Linked DNA regions of Homo sapiens. The protein of the gene in region 3 interacts with the protein of the main gene of each other region in a biochemical or structural test. Each region holds a gene or a part of one and is shown on either strand. Other genes may lie near its edges.

Evidence for each region.
Region 1: the proteins of FMNL1 (region 3) and SRGAP2 form a complex in vitro, tested with the Homo sapiens proteins (one study listed by IntAct).
Region 2: the proteins of FMNL1 (region 3) and GAS7 form a complex in vitro, tested with the Homo sapiens proteins (one study listed by BioGRID).

Annotation. Positions count from the first base shown.
Region 1 is NC_000001.11:206,199,087-206,206,553, forward strand, and holds the start of SRGAP2 (SLIT-ROBO Rho GTPase-activating protein 2), read left to right. Parts: upstream 1-4,454; 5' UTR 4,455-4,564; intron 4,565-4,757; coding exon of another isoform or gene 4,758-4,909; exon of another isoform or gene 4,910-5,021; intron 5,022-5,165; exon of another isoform or gene 5,166-5,627; intron 5,628-6,342; 5' UTR 6,343-6,884; coding exon 6,885-6,951; intron 6,952-7,467. Other genes in the region: protein FAM72A, read right to left, coding at 721-798, 2,788-2,939. UniProt on the Homo sapiens protein: Postsynaptic RAC1 GTPase activating protein (GAP) that plays a key role in neuronal morphogenesis and migration mainly during development of the cerebral cortex. Regulates excitatory and inhibitory synapse maturation and density in cortical pyramidal neurons.
Region 2 is NC_000017.11:10,195,520-10,203,614, forward strand, and holds the start of GAS7 (growth arrest-specific protein 7), read right to left. Parts: upstream 3,088-8,095; 5' UTR 2,872-3,087; coding exon 2,689-2,871; intron 1-2,688. UniProt on the Homo sapiens protein: May play a role in promoting maturation and morphological differentiation of cerebellar neurons.
Region 3 is NC_000017.11:45,217,628-45,224,899, reverse strand, and holds the start of FMNL1 (formin-like protein 1), read right to left. Parts: upstream 3,016-7,272; 5' UTR 2,776-3,015; coding exon 2,647-2,775; intron 1-2,646. UniProt on the Homo sapiens protein: May play a role in the control of cell motility and survival of macrophages. Plays a role in the regulation of cell morphology and cytoskeletal organization. Required in the cortical actin filament dynamics and cell shape.

The DNA.
Region 1 (7,467 bases), on a different chromosome or scaffold from region 3:
AAAAGAAAGAAAGAAAGAAATTAAGGTAGGATGCAGTGGCTCATACCTGTAATCCCAGCCTTTTGGGAAGCTGAGGAGAGAGGATCACTTGAGGCCAGGAGTTTGAGATCAGCCTGGGCAACATAGCAAGACCCTATTGCTACAAAAATAAAAAACTTAGCCAGGTCTGGTGGTGCCTGCCTGTAGTCCCAGCTACTCAGGAGGCTGAGGTAGGAGAATCACTTGAGCCCAGGAGTTCAAGGCTACAGTGAGCTATGATCATGCCACTGCACTCCAGCCTGAGCAACAGTATGAGACCCCTCTAAAAACAAAGAAAGAAGGAGTAATAACCTAGAAATTAAATAAGAAAACAGAGGTTCAGCAGTTTAGAGGCTAAAGGAGTTCACTCAAGATCACATAGAGAGTAAGGGTAGGGTCAGACCTCAAACATGATTTTTATTATTGTAAATCCAGGTGTTTCTCCCCCCTAACCTACATTGCCTTGTTCTGAAAATTGAAGCGGATACTGTGAATACACTTTGAAAACTGTAAAATTATATACTAATGTGAAGCATCAGAAAACCCTTTTAAAAAATAGCTCTAAGTAATAAGTAATTTTTCAATGGCTCATTGCATGCTTTATACCAGTCCTTGTTGCAGCCCACTGAACCTTTCTCTATGCTTTGGTGTCAATATCCATCTTCCAAACCCAGAGCTATCCAGAATAGTGCCACAAATTACCATTTTAAACATGCGATGTCCTTCAGTTTACATTTGCAGATTTTGGTGAAATAGCATCTTCCAGTGAAGTCCACTGCGCTGGAGAGAGAAAGGTATAAAAAGACAGTCAGATGTACTTTACAAAAAATTTAATTGTGGCAAAAAATTAACAAAATTTACCAACTTAACAAGTTTTATGTGTGCAGAGCAGATGTGCTAAATATAATCACATTGCTGTGTAATGAATCTCCTGGGTTCAAGTGACCCTCCTACCAGAGTTTCCTGAGTAGGTGGAACTATAGGCGCCCTATACCACATTTTGTTTATCTGTTCATCTGTAGAATCAATGGACATTTGGATTGCTTCCACCTCTTGGCTATTGTGAATAATGCTGTTAATGAACATGGGTGTGCAAATATCTCTTCCAAGATCCAGTTTTGAATTATTTTGGATATGTACCCAGAACTGCTGGATCAGATAGTAATTCTACGCTTGATTTAGCACAAATTTTGTCAATCCAAAGAGCTGAAAGCTAACATAGAACTATAGTATATTTTTAAAGAGTCAGTTCATATTTGTGAGCTCAACATAAACATCTGACAAATTTTCCATTAAAAAAATTTTTATGTGTTCATTGATTCACATACATCTTAGCACGCTAATTCATTATTATTTTAACCCCTACAAAGAAGGGTAGAAAATGGGAAAAACATGATTCTATTCTAGACTTGGGTCTAACCTGTAACAATTCACCTAGCCTTCCTTATGACTGCCCTATTACTTACCATAGCTATTGCAAAGATGAATGGGTTAATATTTTAAATTTGTGTATGAGCTACTAAAAAGAAAAAGCAGTGGACAATGAATCACAGAACTTTGTAGCAGTAGGTTCTATGATTTATTTTCTAGTGTTTTCCCTTTTTTGAAATACATATACGATGTACACACACACAAATGTAAAATATTAACTTAGAATTTAAAAAAATTAAAAAGATTTTAAAATAACACATTTATCTCTGCAATAAATGAGAGCCTTTGGCTTTGCTGTTAGACATGATTACACTTAGACCAATTCAGAAAAGATTTCAAGAAAGGAAGAGTACACAGCTTTACCTGGGTAAATCAAAAAACTTGTAAAGTTTCTATCATTATCATGAAATTCATTTAAAATGAATTGTGGTTATTAACCTGCTTCCTCTGGCTCTATATCCAAAGACTTAGAGAATAACTGTCCACTCATATTTTGGATAATTACTTTCCTTTTAATAATAAAATTTCAATAAATAACTAAATTTTGAAGATTCATGTAGGGCATATATATGTTGATTATGGAAAGGGAAAGTACCATTTAGAGCTAGAAAGAGGTTTATTTGAGTCAAATAAAATGGCTATTTTACCAAATAGGAAGCAAATTCTTAAGGACTCTACACCCAAAAGCAGTTAGTGGCTGAAAACAAACAGATTTTAAAAGGGTTCAATTATGGGAACAAATGTGTAATGTCCAAAATAGTCTTTATTGGAGATAAGGATTAAGGCTAAGTCTCTATTTTTCATCCCATAAAAATCTATTTACATCTCTTTCAGAGAGAGAGAGTTTTGAGGAAAGAAAACTGAATTTGATGAACAACGGATCTGATTTAGGATGCCAATTGCAAATAATGATAGAAAACGGATTTTTTTTTTTTTGGTGCAAAATTTCATGGATAAAAATGAAAAACTTAAATGACCTCTCCTCTCCAACAGTACGGAAAATTTTGCCTGAATTTACCTAAAGTCTACGCCACGGACTTGATTCAGTGAAATAGGATGGTTGGGCAGGGCACTGAACCAGGGATCAAACTTAAGAGATGTGTGGTCGCATGACTGCAATTGAACTAGAAGCATTACATCAGGACTGACCACCTTGGCTAAACCACAGACTTTGTCCAGACAGTCTGCCCACTTAGATATATTCCAAGGGGATCATCAAACTGGTGGGAGTGGCTGAAACACCGAAATGATAACCTCCTTGTTGACTCCCACAGATCCAAGCCATAAGTGTTCCCATTTAGTTAAAAGCTACCGTTGCCCGCCACTAGCATGACTTACTTGGTAGGAGGGATGTCTGTAGAGAAAAGGTCTATTTCAGTATCAGCCAGCAAAACAGCCTTCATTCCCCTAGAGCTGAGCACTTGTTTACAGAATTTGCAACACAGGATGGACACGCACCTGTCCTTGAAACTACAAATGTTGGTAGACATGGCGTCGCAGGAAGGATGAGGTGTGGGATTTTGAAAAAGGAAACAAGAGTAATGCTCCTACTATTTTGATTCCCCTAGGCTAAAATTCAAATTGCGGGACCTAGAGCTTTTCTAAGTCCTAATATTGGGAAGGAAATTAGTTTTTTTTTCTGTTTTCCCGGTGGCGGAGTAGAAGAAGTATTTATTGAGTAGGAACAGGGGAGCGTGGCAAACTTGGCTTTCCTTTTAACTTTTGGAGAAGGGAGTGGAGTTTGAATTGGAGAGGAGGCAGGTGGAGTTTGAAGGGAACTTCTCAACGGCTTTCCCTTTCTGCTGTCTAAAGGAGTCCTCTACACTTCAGCTCCCGCCCCTTCATAGCAATTCCCTCAGCCTTCTCCGATCGTCTAATTTAAAGCTTCTCCTCTTTTAAGACATCCCTTCCCCAGCATTAAGCCCCTCCCCCGGAGCGCTCCGGTTCCCTGCTGTCGGATCTCGGGCTAAGCGTCCCTACCCACGCCTCCTCTTCCCAGGATTCAGAAACTCCCTTCTCTTTTTCTGCCAGGCGATCCCGGATTCTCCTCCGTCCCGCCCCTTTTCTCCCGGACCTTCCTCCGCTCTGCGGGTCCGCGGGCCCCTCTCCTGGCAACCCCCGGCCCTCAGCGTGCTCGCGCTGTTTCTCTCGCGTCCTCCCTTCCCTCAGCTGTCCCTCGTGCCCCCCGCAGTCCCCTCAGGTTTCTTCCCGGAGCGGCTGTTCCCGGGCGCGCGGTGGTGTTGGTGGGGCAGAGCTGAAGTCGCTTTAGAGGCTCAGTCGGCGCTGGGGTCTGTCACCGAACACGTTGGTTTTCGCTCCCTCTTCCGCTTTTCCTGCCTCTCCAACCCGGTATCAGTTTGAATTGCCAGCGCCGCGCACCGATTGGAAGAACTAGAGTTAGCCCCAGTCCCTCATTGGAAGGCTCCGGGGCCTCCCCTCACGAGAGCTTAGTGGCTTGAAGACCGTAGGCACCGCCCCAGTAACGGTGCTGAGATCAATTCGGCTTTCTGGTTGGCTGAGCTTGGCTCCGCCTCCGATCTCATTGGCCGGCTTCGGGAGGTTTCGGCAAACCCTGCCTTCGCCCTAGTGAAAGTGGCAAGGCACGCCCTTCCCGCTTCTTATTGGAAGAGGTTCTACAGTCTCCACCGGTCTCTACTCTTTATTGGTTAAAACTCCCCGCAACACCCCTCCTCTCTACCCCGGCCCAATTGGCCGTGCCTTAGCTCAAGAGTTTGTGTTTGGTCGTCGGTTCCACCTTAATCCCGCCCATCAGTTCTACTTAGGGGTTCAACAACCCGGGGTGGAGCTTAATCTGTGACCACGCCTCGGCAGTGCTAGTCACACCTCCAAGTTTTGCCAGCTCCTCCCCCTCATTCCGGGCCTCTCGGGATCAGCTCTTCCTATTGGCTATGGGCCCCATCGGTCGATAGAAAACGGGCGGTGATTGGTAAAGGGGTGGGCTCTACTTCCCGGCGGGGTCCTGCGGAGTTGGCGGAGGCTCCTCCAGGGACTGGGGCACCGATCTGCGTAGAAACGGGTGGCGGGGAAGAGAGGGGAGGAGAGCTCTGAGTGGGAAGCGGAGCCGGGGGCCTGGGACCCGTCGCGTCAGAGCCAGGTAAAGGCTCCTTCCCTCTTCCTTTTCTTCCTCCCGGCCGCCGGGCTGGAGCCCTGACTGAACAAACCGGGGCTGGGGCGGGAAGGAGAGGGCGCGGATGCTGCTCGCGGCATCGCCTTAGCGGTGCCGCCCGGAATCCCTCAGACCGCCCCCCCTCCACCCTCTCCAAATCTCCCAGTACAGCCCATAATACTTCTCAGGACTGCGAGTCTCTCCGCCCATCACTGTACAGCCTGGGACTCCGTCCTGGCTCACGGACCGCAGCGCAGCCGGCACCCAGCCGCCTCTCCCTTTCCTCCGCACACGGGCAGCCGCGGTCCACCGTAGGGCAGTCGTCGTTGGCATCGCGCGTAATCATCGGCCGGCCTCCTCCAGTGTCTCCCAGCCCTGGCGGACAGCCCGGGTCCCAGCCTAGGACCCAGGAGGATGGGTGTTCCGCGCAGCTTCCGGGGCTCTCCCCGAGTCCCACCCCCCGGCCCGCCCCGATGGACTTCTCTTCGCCCACTCCCATCCCTAGACCACATCTCGGCCCCCACAGTTCCTGACATCCTTGCGCTTCACGCAACATCGCGGCCCATGATCATGCCCCAATTCCCCTCACCTCTAAGGCAGCCTTCTCCTTGCCGCCTCCCGCCTTCCGAGCGTGTGCAACTCCAATTGTCCCCGGGCTCCCTTCCAGCCTCAGGACCCCATCTCACACCCGCCTCTCGCTTCCCGCTTCCCGCTCGCCTGAACCCCGCCGCCTCTGCTCCCTGTCTTGTTCCCTCAGCGTGGCCCCTTCCTCCAGCCGCGGGAAGTGGGAGACGCTAGCGGGAGCTTCCTCCTCCCGGCGCTCGGAGGAAAAGGAAAGACCAAGTAGAAAGGGTCGCCGCTGCGGCACGCGAGGGAGCTAGTCGCCGGGCTCCGCGCTCCCGCTTGCGTCCCTCCAGCCCCCTGGGCCTCGTCCGGGGCCGGATCTTCTCGGGCACCGCCTGGTGCGAGGAGTCAGGACTGCGACCTCACCGACCTCCTCCCATCCCCAGCCTGGGATTGGGTGGGATATCTGGGATCTCTGAGCTTGGGTGTCAAAAAAATATTGGGGGTGGCATTTATAGTCACTATCGTCCCTAGCTTGAGGGAGGCGACGGCTGCCTTCCGCTCGCCGCCCCCCGGTTTTCCCGGCTCCGACCCTATCCTCTAACCCGTTTCCTGCTTCAGCTGACCACATTGTTTTCCTGGATGTGTCCCGTGCCGAGCAGGCTTTTTCCTGCAGATTTGCCCCCCCCCCCATCAACATTTTGCTGCCAAGAGAAGCTAGTAACCAAAAACAAAACAACTGGGAGGAGGGGCGGGAGAGGAAGAAAAGTTGTGCCCTGGTGGCTTATCCCTCCCCGGCTTTGATCCCCTTTGATGTACAGGGAGGTGCCCCGGCCGGGGGTCTGGGGCCACGTCGGGGGCTAGGTCGGGAGGGCTCCCTCGGGCTGGCCGCTGCCCAGCGCTGGCGGGGCTCAGGAGGCCGCCGAGGTGCCGCAGTCCCCGCCTGGTGCCCCGCGTTCCTGCAGTCCCCGCCCGGAGCCCGCGCAGGCGGCTGCTCCAAAGTGTTTTCTTTCAGCCTTAAAATCCGGAGGGAGCTTCCTTCCTCCCCACCTCGTAGCGCCAGGCTCTGCGGGCGGGGAGACGTTAAGCGGACAGGAATGGGCCCAGGGCGGGCTCGGAACGACGTCCCCTACCCCACCCCCGCCGCGATTAGGATCTGCGCTCTGGCTGATCGCCCCCTCCCCCTTTTCCTGCATTTACAGGCAAGTGAACCGGAGCAAACGACTTCCGATCCAGTCTGCGCTGTTGCGGCTCCCGTTTGGGATTTGATTTGCAGCATCTTTGAGCCTCTACGACAAAAAACCGCGAAGCACGCCCAGCCCTCCCCCGGCACCCCGAAAAGCACCCACTCCCTCCCGGGGACACAGCTGGGCGCGTCCACACCCCCGCAGCCCCACACCATGTTGTGCGGAAGGACTTCCACTCCCCGCCTGTGTCGTTGATGTCAGACCCCAGGCCAGCCTCCGGGCGCTGCAGTTCTCCCGGCTAATGCTGAGGCTGCGGCTCCGGCTCTAGCACAGGCACCAGCCGCCGCCGCACCCGGCCCCAGCGCCCACCGTCTGCATGTGCCCGCCGTAGCCGTCTGCCCAGCCCGCAGCCCGCGCTCCACGGAGCGCTGGAGACCACCGTGGGGGGCCCCTTCTGCCCTCGAGAGAAGCGGTCTTGGAGGTATTGATTTAGGTGGTTGGATTTTTTCCGTGGATCTATCAATTCACAATTCGAATTTGGAAGAAAGAAGGAAAACATGACGTCTCCAGCCAAATTCAAAAAGGATAAGGAGATCATAGCAGAGTACGATACTCAGGTCAAAGGTAAGGGCTTTGAAAAATAGCACACTGCAAATGCTCTGTGGACTGGTGAGGCGTGTATTTCCACCGTGATTTGCAGGTTGTTCATTTCTTTGGGTGGAGCAGATGGGGGCAGGCTGACCCCAGAGGTGGTTTCATAGATGGGTCTGAACCTCCAAAGGATGGGCAATGCCAGGGGGCCATTGACACTGGAAAGGAATTTTTGCAGTGGGCTGTAGGAGTATCTTTGTGGGGCTGACCATGATTTTGGCAGCCCTTTCCCCCCCAAGCCGGACAGGGTGGGGGGAGGGGCAGGAGGCTCTTAGAGAAAGGCAGTTTGCCTCCGGTTCTCTGGGTCAGGTTTCCTTGAAAGACAACTGAAATCTGACAGGTGTTTGGACATTTGTTTCAGAGATTGAAGAGGAGTCCAGACAGAAAGGCAACCTTGGGAAGGTGTACCATTTGGAGAGCCTTGGGAGAGGCGGGGTTTTTCGGATGCACTATATTAAAACATGAGATTTGCAATGGCATTGGCACCAA
Region 2 (8,095 bases), about 35 Mb from region 3:
ATCCCATCCCTAGGCCAGGAGGCTAGTACAGTCCATCTGTCTGTACTTGTTTCTCCAACAGCTGCCCTGGCCTTCTGAACTCCATGCTCCCAAGCAAGCTGAGTGACAGCACCACATTGGCTGACATCTCATGAGGTTCGCCATCTCCAGTATCTATGGGCCCCCTCTCTAGTCTCATGAGTCCAGATGCTGGCCAGTCTACCCACCAGCCTGGGGACCTCTGCATTCTCTGAGTCTGCCCTTCAGGACTCACCCCATCCCAAGCAACTCTGCTTGCATGTCCTCTATCTCTACCTAGCCTTCAGCCTTGAGGTCCAACTTGCTCATGTAGGAGGTTCCCAGATGCCAAGCACCTGACCCACATGCCCCCCTGTTGAAACTGCATCTGCTTTGGCCCTGAGAAGAGTCCCACCCAGTACTTAGGATACAGGACTCGGGCCCACTGTGGGAAGACCCCCAGCTGGTTCTGAGTAAAGTCACACTTTGGGGTTAGCAGGGAAGATCCTCCAAGTTGCTCCTGGATGCAGCTGTCCTCGTTTTAGCCCTAGAGGTTCAGCCTCCCCTTCGCGGTGCTGTCACCAACATGCTGACCTCAGGGGCTGCGCATGCCCCTTTTCCCCATGGATCCAGACCCTTCGCTCACACGCTGTTTGGCATAGTTGAGCCCGGGCTATCATGTTTAAAAAAGGCACAGGCGCAGGGGGTGATACTCAGTCATCTGAGCTGCTAACAAAACACGCAAGCATTACTAGTTGGGGAGCTGACTTCGCCTCTCTCATATTCAGCTTGCTTGTCTATAAAATGGGGGAAGTACCTCACCCTTCACAGAGCTGTCAGGGAACTGGTGATAACGTGCACACACTGTGCCAAGCAGGTGCTCAGAAGTATTGCTCACGCAGATGGATGCTTCTGTTGCAAGTTACTAGTCAGGAATGGTCTGAGAGGCCCTGAGACACCAGAGATCTCTTACCTTTGTATATGCCAGAGGATGGGACAGACACACCCAAAACTGTCCCAGTTGTTAATTCCGCTTGTCCCCTGGCCCTGGTCCATCGTCCCTTTCCCGGAAGAAAAAGCAGCACTCCACTCTTGCTAACTAACACCTACCCAGCCTCACCCCTACACAAAACACAGCTGGCTCAGTCCAGCCAGGGATGCTCCTCACCGGACAGACATCCATCAGCCAAATTTCCACATCAGAATTTCCTGGAAAAGGGTGACCACCCGAAGAACTCCCAAAATACGTATCTATCCCAGGGCTTCAAGCTAGAAACAAGGAGGCCCCTTGCTTCTCATGTAAGAAGCAATACGTTCGCTTTCTTTTACATCCGAATCTCGGGAAAGGAACTGGAAAAGCCAGGGCAGGGCACACCTGAGCCTCTCCTACAAGTAGGGTATCTCCGGATTCTCCAGATACAGAACCAAGAGGGTTCCTGCAACATACTCTGCTGACAGCCCATGAAAGCTCATTCCAGCAGCCCCTAAACTTTGCTCAAATGCTACTGATGCCTTTAGGAGAGATTTTGTTGTTCTCTGGACCTGAAAGCAATCTAATGTACTTTTATAAGGCCAGGCTCTTGCTGACAATGTTGCCACAGGATACATCCTCAGGCGGACTCACCCTGTAACCATTTCACTTCTTTCTTTCTTCCCCCCGCCCCCGATGAATTGCACTGAGCATTCTCAGTCAAAATTTGCTACTTTCTCTGTGAAGTAGGTCAAGAGTTAAATAATAAATAAATTCAGCCTCCATGATTTCTTCCGGCAGTGTTTTACCAGAATGTTTAGGAATACTGACACCATTGAAGGTAACTGTTAATTTAGTCTTTACAAGAATCCTGGGGGCAGGCGGGCTTCTAGTAAAGGGGATGTCCTGGAAGGTCACCCCCCCACACACAAAGGACTTTAGAAACTTCGGGTCTCACTCAGGCTGTGACTGCGAGCTCAGTGATTAGAGGACAGCCTGTCACATAGACAATAAACAGCCAGCCGCCTTGCCTCAGCAGGTCCTGTGCAGCCCTGGGGCCAGGCCAGAACCCCAGGAACAAGCCACTTTCGGGTTCTGAGCCTTAGCCTCGGGGAGCTGGACCAGGGGAGCAGGCAGTGGCGGGGGGTGCTACGGCACCCCAGGATCAAGCCTGCTGAGGGGGCTCGGGCTGGTGGCCAGCAGGCTCGGCTGACCAGCAAGTGGGTGGTCCCGAGGCGGCCAGGCAGCCTGACCCAAGGCAGCACGACCGTCCACGGGTCATCAGGCTCTAGACTCCGGGGTGGAGACGCGGGGCTGCGGGACCGAGTCGGTGCCACTTTCTCGCACCCCTGATCCTCCGTGCCTCTTCCCAAGACCGCCAGACCCTTCACCGGCCCCTGCCACTGCCGGGAACGCTCCCGCCTGCTCCTTAACTCACACAGGCAACAAGTTCTCGCTTCCTCAGAGCAGCCACGGTGTGCTCCGGAGGCCCGGCGCAAGGTGGAAGCTCCCCGCGAGTCCGCGTTGCCCACGCCCCGAGGGGCGCCCGCTGCCGTCGCTGCCCCCCAGGAGCGTGGAGCTACAGGTAGCGCCGGCAAGGGCTGCCCCCCGGGGCGCCCCTCCGACCGGGACGCTGCGGCATCCCCGGAACGGGCAACAGGTACGCGAGCGCACCGAGGACCGCAGCCCCGGCTCCTACAGCCCCGGCCCTCGCCCCTTACCTCCAGCAACTGCACGTAGCTCGCCGGGAACCAGCCACGGAGCCCGTCCTCCTTCTCGCCTTCCCACCAGCCGCCGTCCGGGACCTGCAGCAGCGTGATCAGCTCGCCCGCGGCGAAGCGCAGCCCCTGGCCGTGCCGCTCCCCGGAGAAGGGGTACAGGGTCCGGCAGCGAGCGCCGGACATGGCCTTGGCGCCCGGGTTCACAGCGCAGCCTGCATTCCCGCCGAGCCCCACGGGCTGGGCAGCGGCTCCGCGGGGTCCCAGGCGCCCGGCGCTCCGGGCTCCCGCGCTCTGGGCGCGCGCCGTCTCTGGGGTGCGCGGGGGTCCTCAGGCAGGCGGGGGACGCGCGCTCCGCGCCGGGAAGCAGAGACTCGTTGGCTTCGCAGAGCGAGCGGCGACGCCCCCGGGCCGGGCAGCTCGCGGATCCTAGCTCTGGGCTGGGGGGCGGGGCTCAGGGGGAGGAGACCCAGGCGCCGCGGGCTCCGGAGACAACTTCCCGGGAACGCGGAACGCGGGCTGCCGCCGCGAGGGCTGGCCGGGGCCGGGGCCGGGACCGGGGCCGGGGCCGCCCTGGCGCGCGGAAATGCGCAGCTCCCCCGGGAGGTGGGACCCGGAGCATCCCCCGCGGCAGGACTCCGCGGCGGGCGGCCGTGGAGAGGAGCTGGCGGCCGGGTGGCCGGGCGGGGGTTAGCTCACTGGCGAGGGGGCGGGCCGGGGCGGGGCCAGGGCGGCCACGCCCGCGGAGGGCTGCGCGCTCCCTCGCAGAGGGGCCTGTCACTGGGGAGAGGGGCTCCCACTCGCGCCCCCACCGCCGGGGACCGCGGGAATGGAAACGCCCCTCTGTTCTGTGCCTGCTTTGTAGGCCTGGCGGCCCGTGGCGTGCGGGCGGCTTCTTCGAGGTGTCTGCGAGGGATCGTTTGTGGTTGTCATTGTAGTGGTTGAACCTGGGGTTGAACTTGTCTCACCGGAAACTGAACAATGGGTGAAAGACAGGTTTGAAGCCTGGCGCCTGAGCCCAGCAGCCTGGTGGCAGCGTGGCACGCTGGAGGGACGGAATGGAGAGAAGACGGGGTCGGAGTTGATAGAATTGGAAACAGTCGATGGGGATAAATGGAGGAAAGGCGAACGGTGAGAGGAACAGCACCAATGCTTTTACTTGCAGAGGGAAGGCCGGCCCAGGGTACCAGCCCTCCCGAAATCGAGATGGGTTGGCTAAAGAGTCTACACTCATGTAGTCAGTCAACAAACATTACCAGGAGGCTGCCATGTTCCATGCGATGTGCCAGGTACTACAAACATCATTTGGGCCAGTCCCTGCTCTCCAGGGACCAGTGAACCTGAGTGCTGCAGAATGTTGACCTTGAACTGACCGTACAGAAGTAAAAGAAAGCTTGGTTTCTTTGCTAGTCTACTCCATAAAAAATTTTAAAGAAATAAAATAAAGTACATTTTTTAGCCTGTAAATAGCTGGACTCGGCCAGGCGCGGTGGCTCACGCCTGTAATCCCAGCACTTTGGGAGGCTGAGGCGAATGGCTCACTTGAGGTCAGGAGTTCAAGACCAGCCTGGCCAACAAGGTGAAACCCCATCTCCACTAAAAATACAAAAATTAGCCGGGCGTGGTGGCGGGTGCCTGTAATCCCAGCTACTCAGGAGGCTGAGGCAGGAGAATGGCTTGAACCCGGGAGGTGGAAGTTGCAGTGGGCGGAGATCATACCACTGCATTCCAGCCTGGGTAACAAGGGTGAAACTCCGTCTCAAAAAAAAAAAAAGCTGGACCCTTTAATACGCCTGTATACCTCTGTCTACTCCTTCCCCCCTCCCCCAGTCACCTTCTGTGGCTCCCTATTGCCTTTTAAATTTGGTACAAACTTCTCTGCCTGTACATTTCAGGCCCTCCACAACGCCTCCTCTAGCTTCACCTCTTACTATGACTGCCTAGATATCCATTACAAAACCAGTCAGGCCGGGCTCCAAGAGCCTGAAGATCTTGCGCACCTGTCTATGCTTTGAATCAGACCCTGGCACAGAGCCTTTCACCTAGTTCAATGGTTCTCAATCCTGGCTGCACATTACAGTCATTATGCAACTTTTTAAAAATACTCATGCCCAGGTTTTAAGAGTCACTACTGAGCCCTAGTCTGCAGCTAAGCCATCTCACCTGAGCAGCCTCCATCTGTTCTCTGGCCATGGGCAAAGTGACACAAGCAGATTATTTGTAATAGTCCATCAATTGCAAAGTCTTGAACATTCGCTTGGCCGGAAATATAAAGAAACAAACTCTTGACCACAGTCACCACTAAGAGTCCCTTAAAGCGGAGCTGCATAACTTCATATCAAAAACAGTCATTAAAAATAGCTGGCCCAATGAAGTTTTAAAAGAGATACAATTCCTTGTATCAGGAAAATATGTGACTTCCAGCAGGCTGTTCTGAGGCTTCATTCCTGATGATGTGGCCTGAATCAAGGTAGGACAACTGATTTCCAGCCATCCTGCAACCCTAATTCTCTGCATGCCCGTGAGGAACTGTGATCCAGTTTGGACTTGAGAAATCGCAGCCTACACAGCATGCCATACACTTGAGTTCTACCTGACCCACCTCAAACATTCCTGCAGCAACCAAAAATGATAATAGCTGTTAATTTCTCCACTTAATTCATTTCATTCCTGTAATCCTACGAGCTGATGAGGTGACTGTTGTCCCAGTTTTCAGGTAAAGAAACTGGGCTCAAAGAGTGTGACTTGCTCACCATCATACAGCTGGTCAACAGCAGAATCAGCTTTGAACTCAATTCTAGCTTATTGTACACTGGTGTTGCTTTCTGTCGTCCCCCCTGCCAGTCAGAAAGCAGGTATCCTAGTGACTCACCCACAAATAGCATCTTAAGAGAAAGTTCTCTAGGCTGGGCACAGCCTGTGAGAGCTTATGCCTGTAATCCCCACACTTTGGGAGGCCAAGGCGGGCGGATCACGAGGCCAGCAGATTGAGACCAGTCTGGCCAACATGGTGAAACCCCATCTTTACTAAAAATACAAAAATTAGCTAGGTGTGGTGCCGCGTGCCTGTAATCCCAGCTACTCAGGAGGCTGAGGCAGGAGAATCGCTTGAACCTGGAAGGTGGAGGTTGCAGTGAGCCGAGATCACGCCACTGTACTCCAGCCTGGCGACAGAGCAAGACTCCATCTCAGAAAAAAGAAAAGAAAAGAAAAGAAAAGACTCTCTGGTGATACCCAATGTCAGTCTTCATAGAAATAAGACTGGACTAGCAGTTAGTGGAACTCCTGTTGCTGATCTCTTATCAATCAGGTAACCTCCAAATCCTCAAGTCTTCCCATACCTTTGGGTCTATTTCCCCGTCTGTAATTGGAGATCGAATCCAGTAACTGGAATATGGGAATTTAAATGGTTAAATGTAGTTAGTGGTTAAATATGTTGGCTCTGGACTGCCTTTATTCAAACCCCATTTCTGCCACTTTCTAGCTGTGTGGCATTGGGTGATTTACTTACGTCTCTGAGCGTCATTTTCCTCATCACTACAAGAAGACAACAGTAGTATTAATATCATAGAGTTATTAAGAAGATTAAGTGAGGAAGCATGTAAACTGTTTAGAGCAGTGCCTGGCACATTAAATGCCCCTATGTTAGCGATTGTTTTTATCTATCCAGTTCAAGGGTCCTGGTGATTTATTACGTAACACTTCTTTTTTAACTAAGATTTCTAGAGCAACAATAGAAGGAGGAACTCTTACATCTTTGGGATGCCACAAATTTTGTAGAAACACACTTTGGCTTTCTGTTTTCTCCCAGGATCTTGAAGGAAAGATAAATTCCTCCCTTATCAATTTTCCCTCCTGCCTTCTCCCTCTCTGATTTATATTACTATCTTGAAATTGTATTTAAATCTTTAATTATTTTTGCTTTTTTTTTTTTTAAATTGAGACAAGATCTGGCTGTATTGCCCAGACTGGAGTGCAATGGTGTGATCTTGGCTCACTGCATCCTCTGCCTCGCGTCTCAAGCCATCCTCCCACCTCAGCCTCCAGAGAAGCTAGCTGGGACTACAGGTGCACACCACCATGCCTGGCTAATTTATTTTTGCTTTTTTTTTTTTTTTTTTTTTGAGATGGAGTCTCGCTCTGTAGCCAGGCTGGACTGCAGTGGCACTATCTCGGCTCACTGCAAGCTCCGCCTCCTGGGTTCATGCCATTCTCCCGCCTCAGCCTCCCAAGTAGCTGGGACTACAGGCGCCTGCCACCACGCCCGGCTAATTTTTTGTATTTTTAGTAGAGACGGGGTCTCACCGTGTTAGCCAGGCAGGTGTCAATCTCCTGACCTCGTGATCTGCCCGCCTCGGCCTCCCAAAGTGCTGAGATTACAGGCGTGAGCCACCACACCTAGCCTACTTTTGCTTTTTAAAAAAATAATAATTATTATTAAGTCTTATTTTACTGGTTAGACTGTTAGTAACTCAGGAGAGGGATAGCATCTTTGTTTTAAATTTCCATCTATCTTTTTTTTTTTTAGACTGAGTTTTACTCTTGTCACCCAGGCTGCAGTGCAATGGCATGATTTTGGCTCACTGCAACCTCCACCTCCGAAGTTCAAGTGATTCTCCTGCCTCAGCCTCCTGAGTGGCTGGGATTACAGGCATGCGCCTCCACGCCCGGCTAATGTTGTATTTTTAGTAGAGATGGGGTTTCGCCCTGTTGGCCAGGCTGGTCTCGAACTCCTAACCTCAGGTGATCCACCCACCTCTGCCTACCAAAGTGCTGGGATTACAGGCATGAGCCACCATGCCTAGCCTATCTATCCTTCTTAAAGCCTAACGTTGACTCATACAAAAAGCAGGCATTCAGTACTTCTTGATCTTTTGCATAGATTGTTTGGACCCTGTTCATATTTAGATTTTCTACTTGCTAAGTTGTTGTATAAACCTGTGTCAGAGCTTTCTCTAGACACTGTGCATTTGTTAGTTATGTGGTGGCTGGTATTTCATTTCTACCCAAGACAACCTTATACACCTTTCTATCAGCCTATGGATGGCAGAGAAATGGAAAGGTTTCCATTTCTTTACAACGTTAAACATAGCCAGGCGTGGTCGCTCATACCTGTAATCCCAATGCTTTGAGAGGCTGAGGCTGTGGGTTCCCTTGAGGCCAAGAGTTTAGGACCAGCCCAGACAACATAGTAAGACCCCTGTCTCTACAAAAAATAAAATAAAATAGAAAATAAATAAAATAATTTAGCCACAGGACGTGGTGACATATCCCTGTGGTCCCAGCTACTCAGGAGGCTGAGGTGGGAGGATCACTTGAGCCTAGGAGATCGAGGCTGCAGTGAGCCATGACCACACAACTGCACTCCAGCCTGGGCAGCAGTGCAAGCCCCTGTCTAAAAAAAAGAAAA
Region 3 (7,272 bases):
AGAGCTTGGCGCCCCGCTGGCTGGTGTTCCCACCATCACAGCAGGCCCGTGGGGCTGGGCAGCCATCGCTCCTCTGCTGTTGCTAAGGCAGCAGCCGGAAACCCTGGCTCAACCTGCTCTTTCTCTCCACCCCCATTTTAAGCAGGGGGCACCCCTTTCTTTCACAGCTTTCTTGGAAAGGTAGCCCCCCACCACCCACCCTTGCATGGGAGAAGGGCTCCCTGCACCTCCTGTCTGGCTGTAAGTGGGGACACCCCTCACCCACAAGAGAGGTCCTACAGCCAGGAGAGGAAGGAGAGTTTGGGGTATCAGGATCCTATGCCCCACCAGGGACAAAAGGGGAAGGAAGAGGTTCCCTGGGGCCGCTGGACTACATCCCTGAGGGCAGGACTGTGCTTCTCCCATTGAGACTGGGGACCACTGATGGCGGTGGGCCCCTCCCCTCAGCAATCTAAGGTTCTTCTCCTCTTAGACACTGACCGAGGACAGGACTCAGCTCTGGCCATGGTGGTTCGGGTGGGGGTTCACATAGCGACCAACTCTGCGATACACACTGCCAGACCTGAGGGTTGAACCAACTCTTTAGCCCTGGGCAGCCTCAGGCAGAGGTCAAGGTTGTCACCCTGGGGCAAGCCTCATGCCCCTGCTGGTGGGGAATGAGAGGAACCAGGGTCTTAGCCAAGTGTCCTTAGATTGGGTTTAACCTGCCCACAACAGGATATAAGACAGGCTGAGCCACCCCGGGAAGAAGGTATAAACACACTGGGGTTCCTGGGCACCTGGTAGGGGGTAAGCCCTGGTGGGTGCTGCTACCCTAAATTTCTGCTAGGCACCTCCACTTTCTCCACCAGCACACCCTCTCTGACCCACCTGTGGGTGTCCCCCCTCCACATCCTGGTACTCAGGGACTCCCAGTGGCATTTAGTGTCAGACTCAGCCAATCACAGCCACAAATCCAAGCAGGGCAAACAAGTCCTACACACACATCAGAACCTCACCATTTGACTTGTGGATTTTCCCCTGGTCTGAATTATTCACAGGGCTCCTCCCCATCAGCGTGCTAAACAGAAGATTGGGGTCAGGACCTCACCCCAAGAGCCCACACCCGCGACCATAGACACACACTTGGCGGAAAGACAGACCCATGTCCCTCCAACCAGGTTGGCAGGGGTCCAAGGACCCACCACCAATGCAGGCTCTCCAGATGGCCCCCAGAGACTGTGTCTCCTCATTCTCCCCCCTCCCCCATCTGCTCAGCTCAGCTCAGCTTTGTGAAGTCCTATGCTTGGGGAGCGGGGAGCAGGGCAGGTGGAGAGATGGAGAAGTCAGGGGCCAGCCTGGTGTGAGGCGTCCCTCAGTGTCCCTGCCCTCCTCTAATCAAGCAAGGTGTCTTCACAAGGATGGATCCCTCGCCACCCCATAGCTCCTCCAAACTCCCCCCAGCCTTCTCTTGGGAGAGGACAGAAGCCAACATTTTCAGGAACTGTTAGGAGGTGACCCTCTGGAGCCATGCTGAGGATCTAGCACGTATGGCCTAATGACCAGCCAGGCGAGGGGAAATGATGTCAAGGAGATGGAGGGCCACCAACTGAGCCAGAACCCTCTGCGGCCTGTGTCTCCGTTGAGCCCCCACCCTCAGACCTGCAGGGACTGGGAAATGCATCTGGGAGAAGGCACAGCCTCATTTTGCCTGTCACCCAGCGTCCAGCAAGGGAAGGCTGACAGCAGGCAGGCCACCAGGCAATTAGTTAGAGGAGGGAGCCAGGGCCAGGGCGTCGGGGGTGGGGAGAGTGAGAGTGAGCAGCTCTTCCTCTCCCTACTTCTGCCTTATGCAGGGTCTTGGAGACCCCTGAGTCTGCTCTGGAGCCCCCACCCCACTGAACATGTTGACTGTTTCCAGGCTCGGCCTGAGCTGCTGGTTCCCTCCCAGAGACCTATTCCCCAGCGACCCCGCTCCAATTCCCCAGGTAGGCACAGAGGGGGGTGGTTCCAGATTTTGCTCCACCCCTAGCCTGGGCGACCCACCCGTCCTGACCCCACCCTCCCTCATCTTACTCCCTTCAGTGGCTTGGAAAGGATGCCCCAAGATAAAGACCCACAGGCACCCTGGCTCTGACATATGGCGGGGTAGAAACACAGATACCTCCTGGCCATGATCCGACAACCCCATTCCCCGCAGCCCAGGCGCCCAACAAATCAGGACCCAACACCTCCAGCAGGTCTCCCGCTCCCGGGAGGTTGTAACCCTTTCATCTTTGACTCCAGACACAGAAAGGCAGATGCCCCAGACCCGCGCCCGGTGGCTGGGCCTGCGTGCAGTGGGGAAGGGGGCGACCCGGGACCCCTGTGCGTGCCCCGCTCCCAACTTCTTCACAGGACATACTTGTTTAGACCTTAAGACCCAGCTGGGGTGGAGGCGTCTTAGGGAGGGAGACCGGGCGATAACTGAAGAAAGTTTTGGGGGGAGAGTGCTAAGTCACTCTGAAAAAAAGGCCACTGTCGCTCCCACCTCCTGGAGGGGGCAGCTGCCGGACCGGGGATCTCCAAGCGGCACCTGAGTCCCCGGGGGCGGGGACGCGCGCCCAGCCCCTGCCGCGCCCCTGCCGCCCCCCGCCCGCGCCCGACCCGCCTCCGGGTCGCACTCACCAGGGCGCGGTTGAACCTCTCCTCCAGCTCTCCGGCCGCGGGCATCGGCTGCTTGGGAGGCGCGGGCTGCTTGGGGGGCGGCGCGGCGGGGCCCGCGGGCTGCTCGGCGCTGCCGGCCGCGTTGCCCATGGTGGTCCCCACCCAGCCGGCCAGGCGCCTCCAGCCTCGGAAATCCAGCTTTCCGGGGGACGGGGACGAGGCTCCCGGCCCGGGCGGGGGCGAGGGGGCAGCGGCTGGCGGTGGCGGCGGGGGTCTCGGCAGCGGGGGGCGCTCGGCTCAGCGGCGCGCAGGGGCCGGAGCGCGGCGTCCCATCGGGGCGGCCCCGTCCGTGGGACCGGGCGGCGAGCTGCAGGGTTGGGGGAGGAAGTCAGGCTGCAGGCCGCCGGGGCCAGAGGGCTGGGCCGGGGGCAGGAAGCTGCGGCGCTGGCTCCCCCCTCGGCGATTTTCGAACTTCTGCTGTCGCTCCCCGTGCGCGCAAACCGCAGTTCGCCGCCGCCGCCGCCGGGCACCCAGCCCCAGGGGGGCGGGCTGGAGGGAGGGGGCGGGCGCTGGCCGGGGGACCCCCGCAACCATGGCGGGCGGGGAGTGGGCTGCCGAGCCGCTTCACCTGCCGCAGAGGGGGCGGCCGGCGCCGCTTCACCTGCCGGAGCGGGAGGCCACCGAGGCGAGGCCGAGGCGGCGGCGCGCTCGGCGGCGCCTCCGGGTCCTAGAACCGCATCCTCCCGCTCGCCTCGGGCGAGGGATTGGCCGGGTCTGGGTGAAGGGGATCACGGCCTGGGGATTGGAGGGGCACATCTTCTCCGCACCGAGGATCTCAGCGACTGCGAGCACGGCTCGGAGACCCACGGTGGTGCAGCGTTGGGGCGCCAGGGCTGCGTTCCCGTCTCGCGTCCCGGACTGAGAAGGTGGGAACCCCCTTCCAGGCCCCCCACCTTTTATTTCTCTCCTCCCCTGCTTAGCCCAGAGACGAGCTGAGGACGAGGGGGAGCCATCTCCAAACAGGAACTCCTAAACAGGGTGGGGGGCGCGGACGCAGGCCAGTGGAGACCCCCGCCACCTGTCCCACCTCGACCAACCGTGCGCCTGTGCAGGGCACCCCTACAGGTTTTAGAATGGGGGCACCTATGGAATATGGCAGGCTGCGAGAAGCTGGGCCCGCCAAGGTGGTCCCAAGGAGGAGTGGGGGGTTGCGGAAAGGAGGATGAGAGCCAGCCACAAGGCTGGAAAAGGAGTGGGCACCGCAGAGGAGGGAAAAAGAATCTTGACACTGTCACCGCCAGGGATCTAGGGGGGCCTCTTACCTTGGAGAATAACAATCTCTGATGTCTGCTAATTACAGAAATACTTTCAGAGCTCTTTCATTCATCCTGACAATGGCCAGAGAAGGTAGGTATTGGTAGCCTTATTTTAGAGATGGGGAAACTGAGGCTGAGAGTAGGTAAGTAAGCTGTCCAAGGGCACTCAGCTAACAAAGGACAGAAGCAAGCCTCCTCACTGTCTACCTCCAAAACCTACACTGGCTTGGAGTTGCTGTCCTGGCCCTCCACTGCCCATCTCATGTAGGACGGGAGAGTATGGGGGGCTGGGGTCCCATCTATAGCCTGAATTTGAGACTTTCAGTTGCTCCTCTCATTCCCCATTTAATTTGTGGGGATCCCCAACTGACCCCTCCCTACACTTCCAGGGCACTGAGGAGGGAGGGCCCGCTGAAGGAGCCCCGAATTATCTCTAGGCCAGGTCAGGAGCCATTAGTGTCCCCTCCCCTGACAGCATCCTCCTCCTTCTGCCCTCACATTCAGAGCCACTGACAAGACTTTAAGCAAGAGACGGAGAGTTAACATCTAATCTGGAGGAAGACCCTGGAAGGAGCCAGCCCCTTCCCCCAGGCTGACCTGGTTTAAGCCTTTCTTCTGCCAAGGTCACCAGCACCCCAGATGGGTGAGAGATGTGATCACTGGTTTCGTGGCCTGACCAAGGACCTCCAAGGTGAGTCAAAGCAGAATTCTCCTTGGGCATGCAGGGAAAATGATCCATTCCCTGCACACTGCCATATTCTCCTTCTCAGACAGACCAGAGCCTTGCCCTTGGGTCCTTGCCCTTGAGATTAGCTAGGACCTCCTCCTCTTCTTCTCCTTCTTTCTTCTTCTTCTTGTCTCTATAAGATAACTGTCGTGGAAGACTTTTTTTTTTCTTTTAAGATGGAGTCTCTCGCTGTTGCCCAGGCTGGAGTGCAGTGGCTCGGTCTCAGCTCACTGCAACCTCCACCTCCCAGGTCCAAGCAATTATCCAGTCTCAGCCTCCTCAGTAGCTGGGACCACAGGTGCGTGCCACCACACCCAGCTCATTTTTGTATTTTTAGTAGAGACGGGGTTTTGCTATGTTGACCAAGCTGGTCTCGAACTCCTGACCTCAAGTGATCCGCCTGCCTCGGCCTCCCAAAGTGCTGGGATTACAGGCATGAGGCACCCCGTCCAGCCTGGAAGACTTTTTTTTTTAATGAATAAAAACACATTTTTTTAAAGAATGGATTCCCTGATTCCTCAATGGCTGTCTCTTTCAATTGAACAATAAACCTTTACTTAGCATCAGCTACATGCCCATCACTGTGCTTGGTCCTGCAGATTCTGTGGCAGATGAGAAATGCCTTGGTCCTTGGGCTGCTTGCAGCCTAGCGAGGGACAGACTTTTAACCTCTCTAGGAGAGTGGCTGCTTCAAGTCATCCTATGGGACCAGCTGTTCATGCTTCCTCTTGCCCAGAACTACTTCTGTGAGAGGAAAAGAGAAGGGTAGGAGCGTGCCCTGCAGCTGGAAACCCAAGCCAGGCGGGGAGCCACGAATGCAGTAGTTATCAGACTGTATCTTCAATCCTGGGGGCTTCTCAAGCCATTGCCAGCCACTCTTCACCCAAGGCCTGGTGGAATAAAGCTGGGCTAAGTAACACCTCTTCTGTGGAAAATTATTGTTTCTGCAAGCCTATATTCATTCTCCCTCTCTCTCATGCTGATCAGAACTGTGAGTTACAAAAAAAATGAGAAGATGGAATCAATTATTACGTAGTAAATTTCATTTGCTTGGCAGGAGGTATCTTTCCCATCTTGGCCCACAGAGGAGGAAATCCTAGAAGGGATGACTGAAGCTTGGGACTAACACATTGGTGGATCTGTGCTACCCCCTGCTGGCCGTAGACGGTATGACAGCCAAGATAGGGCAAGGCTTCGAGGGGCGATGGATGGATTCACCGCAGCGGCGACATTTCTGGACTGTTGTCACCTTCAGTGCAGTCACTGGGAATATTCAGAACCCAGGTGATTGATAAGGTTTTCCCAGGGATCTCTTCTCTCCCCTTCACCATTACTCAGTAGGAGCTTCCTTAAAAACGGAAAACGAGAGGCCGGGCGCGGTGGCTCACGCCTGTAATCCCAGCACTTTGGGAGGCGGAGGCGGGCGGATCACGAGGTCAGGAGATCGAGACCATCCTGGCTAACACAACCCCGTCTCTACTTAAAATACAAAAAATTAGCCGGGCGTGGTGGCACGCGCCTGTAGTTCCAGCTACTCAGGAGGCTGAGGCAGGAGAATCGCTTGAACCCGGGAGGCAGAGGAGGTTGCAGTGAGCTGAGATGGCGCCACTGCACTCCAGCCTGGCCGACTGAGACTCCATCTCAAAAAAAAAAAAAAAAAAAGGAAAAAGGGGCCGGGCGCGGTGGCTCACGTCTATAATCCTAGCACTTTGGGAGACCAAGGCGGGCAGATCACGAGGTCAGGAATTTGAGACTAGTGTGGCCAACATGGTGAAACCCCATCTCTACTAAAAATACAAAAAATTAGCCGGGTGTGGTGGCGCATGCCTGTAATCCTAGCTACTCGGGAGGCCGAGGCAGGAGAATCGCTTGAACCCAGGAGGCCGAGGTTGCAGTGAGCCGAGATCACGCCATTGCACTCCAGCCTGGGCGACAGAGCAAGACTCCGTCTTGAGGGAAAAAAAAAAAAAAAAGAAAAAGGGGCCAGGCACCTGTAATCCCAGCACTTTGGGAGGCTGAGGAGGGAAGATCGCTAAAACCCAGGAGTTCAAGACCAGCCTGGGCAACATGGTGAGACCCCATCTCTACAAAAAATGCAAAAAAAAAAAAAACAAAAACAAAAAAAAAAACAGCTGGGCATGATGGTGCGCACCTGTAGTCCCAGCTACTCGGGAGGCTGAGGTGGGAGGATTATTTGAGCCTGAGAGGTCAAGGCTGCAGTGAGCCAAGATCGCATCACTGCACTCTAGCCTGGGTAACAGAGCAAGACCCTGCCTCAAAAAAAAAAAAAAAAAAGGAAAAAGGTTATTACACAGTTCAAAAGAGAAACAAAGTGCAAAAGCATGTGCAAAGAAAGTAAAGTCCCTCCTGGCCAAGTGCGATGGCTCAAGCCTGTAATCTCAACACCCTGGGAGGCTGAAGTGGGTAGATCATTTGAGGTCTGGAGTTTGAGACCAGCCTGGCCAACATGGTGAAACCCCGTCTCTACTAAAAATATAAAAATTAGCTTGGCGTAGTGGCGGGTGCCTGTAATCCCAGGTACTCGGGAGGCTGAGGCAGGAGAATCACTTGAACTTGGGAGGCGGAGGGTGCCGCGAGCCAAGA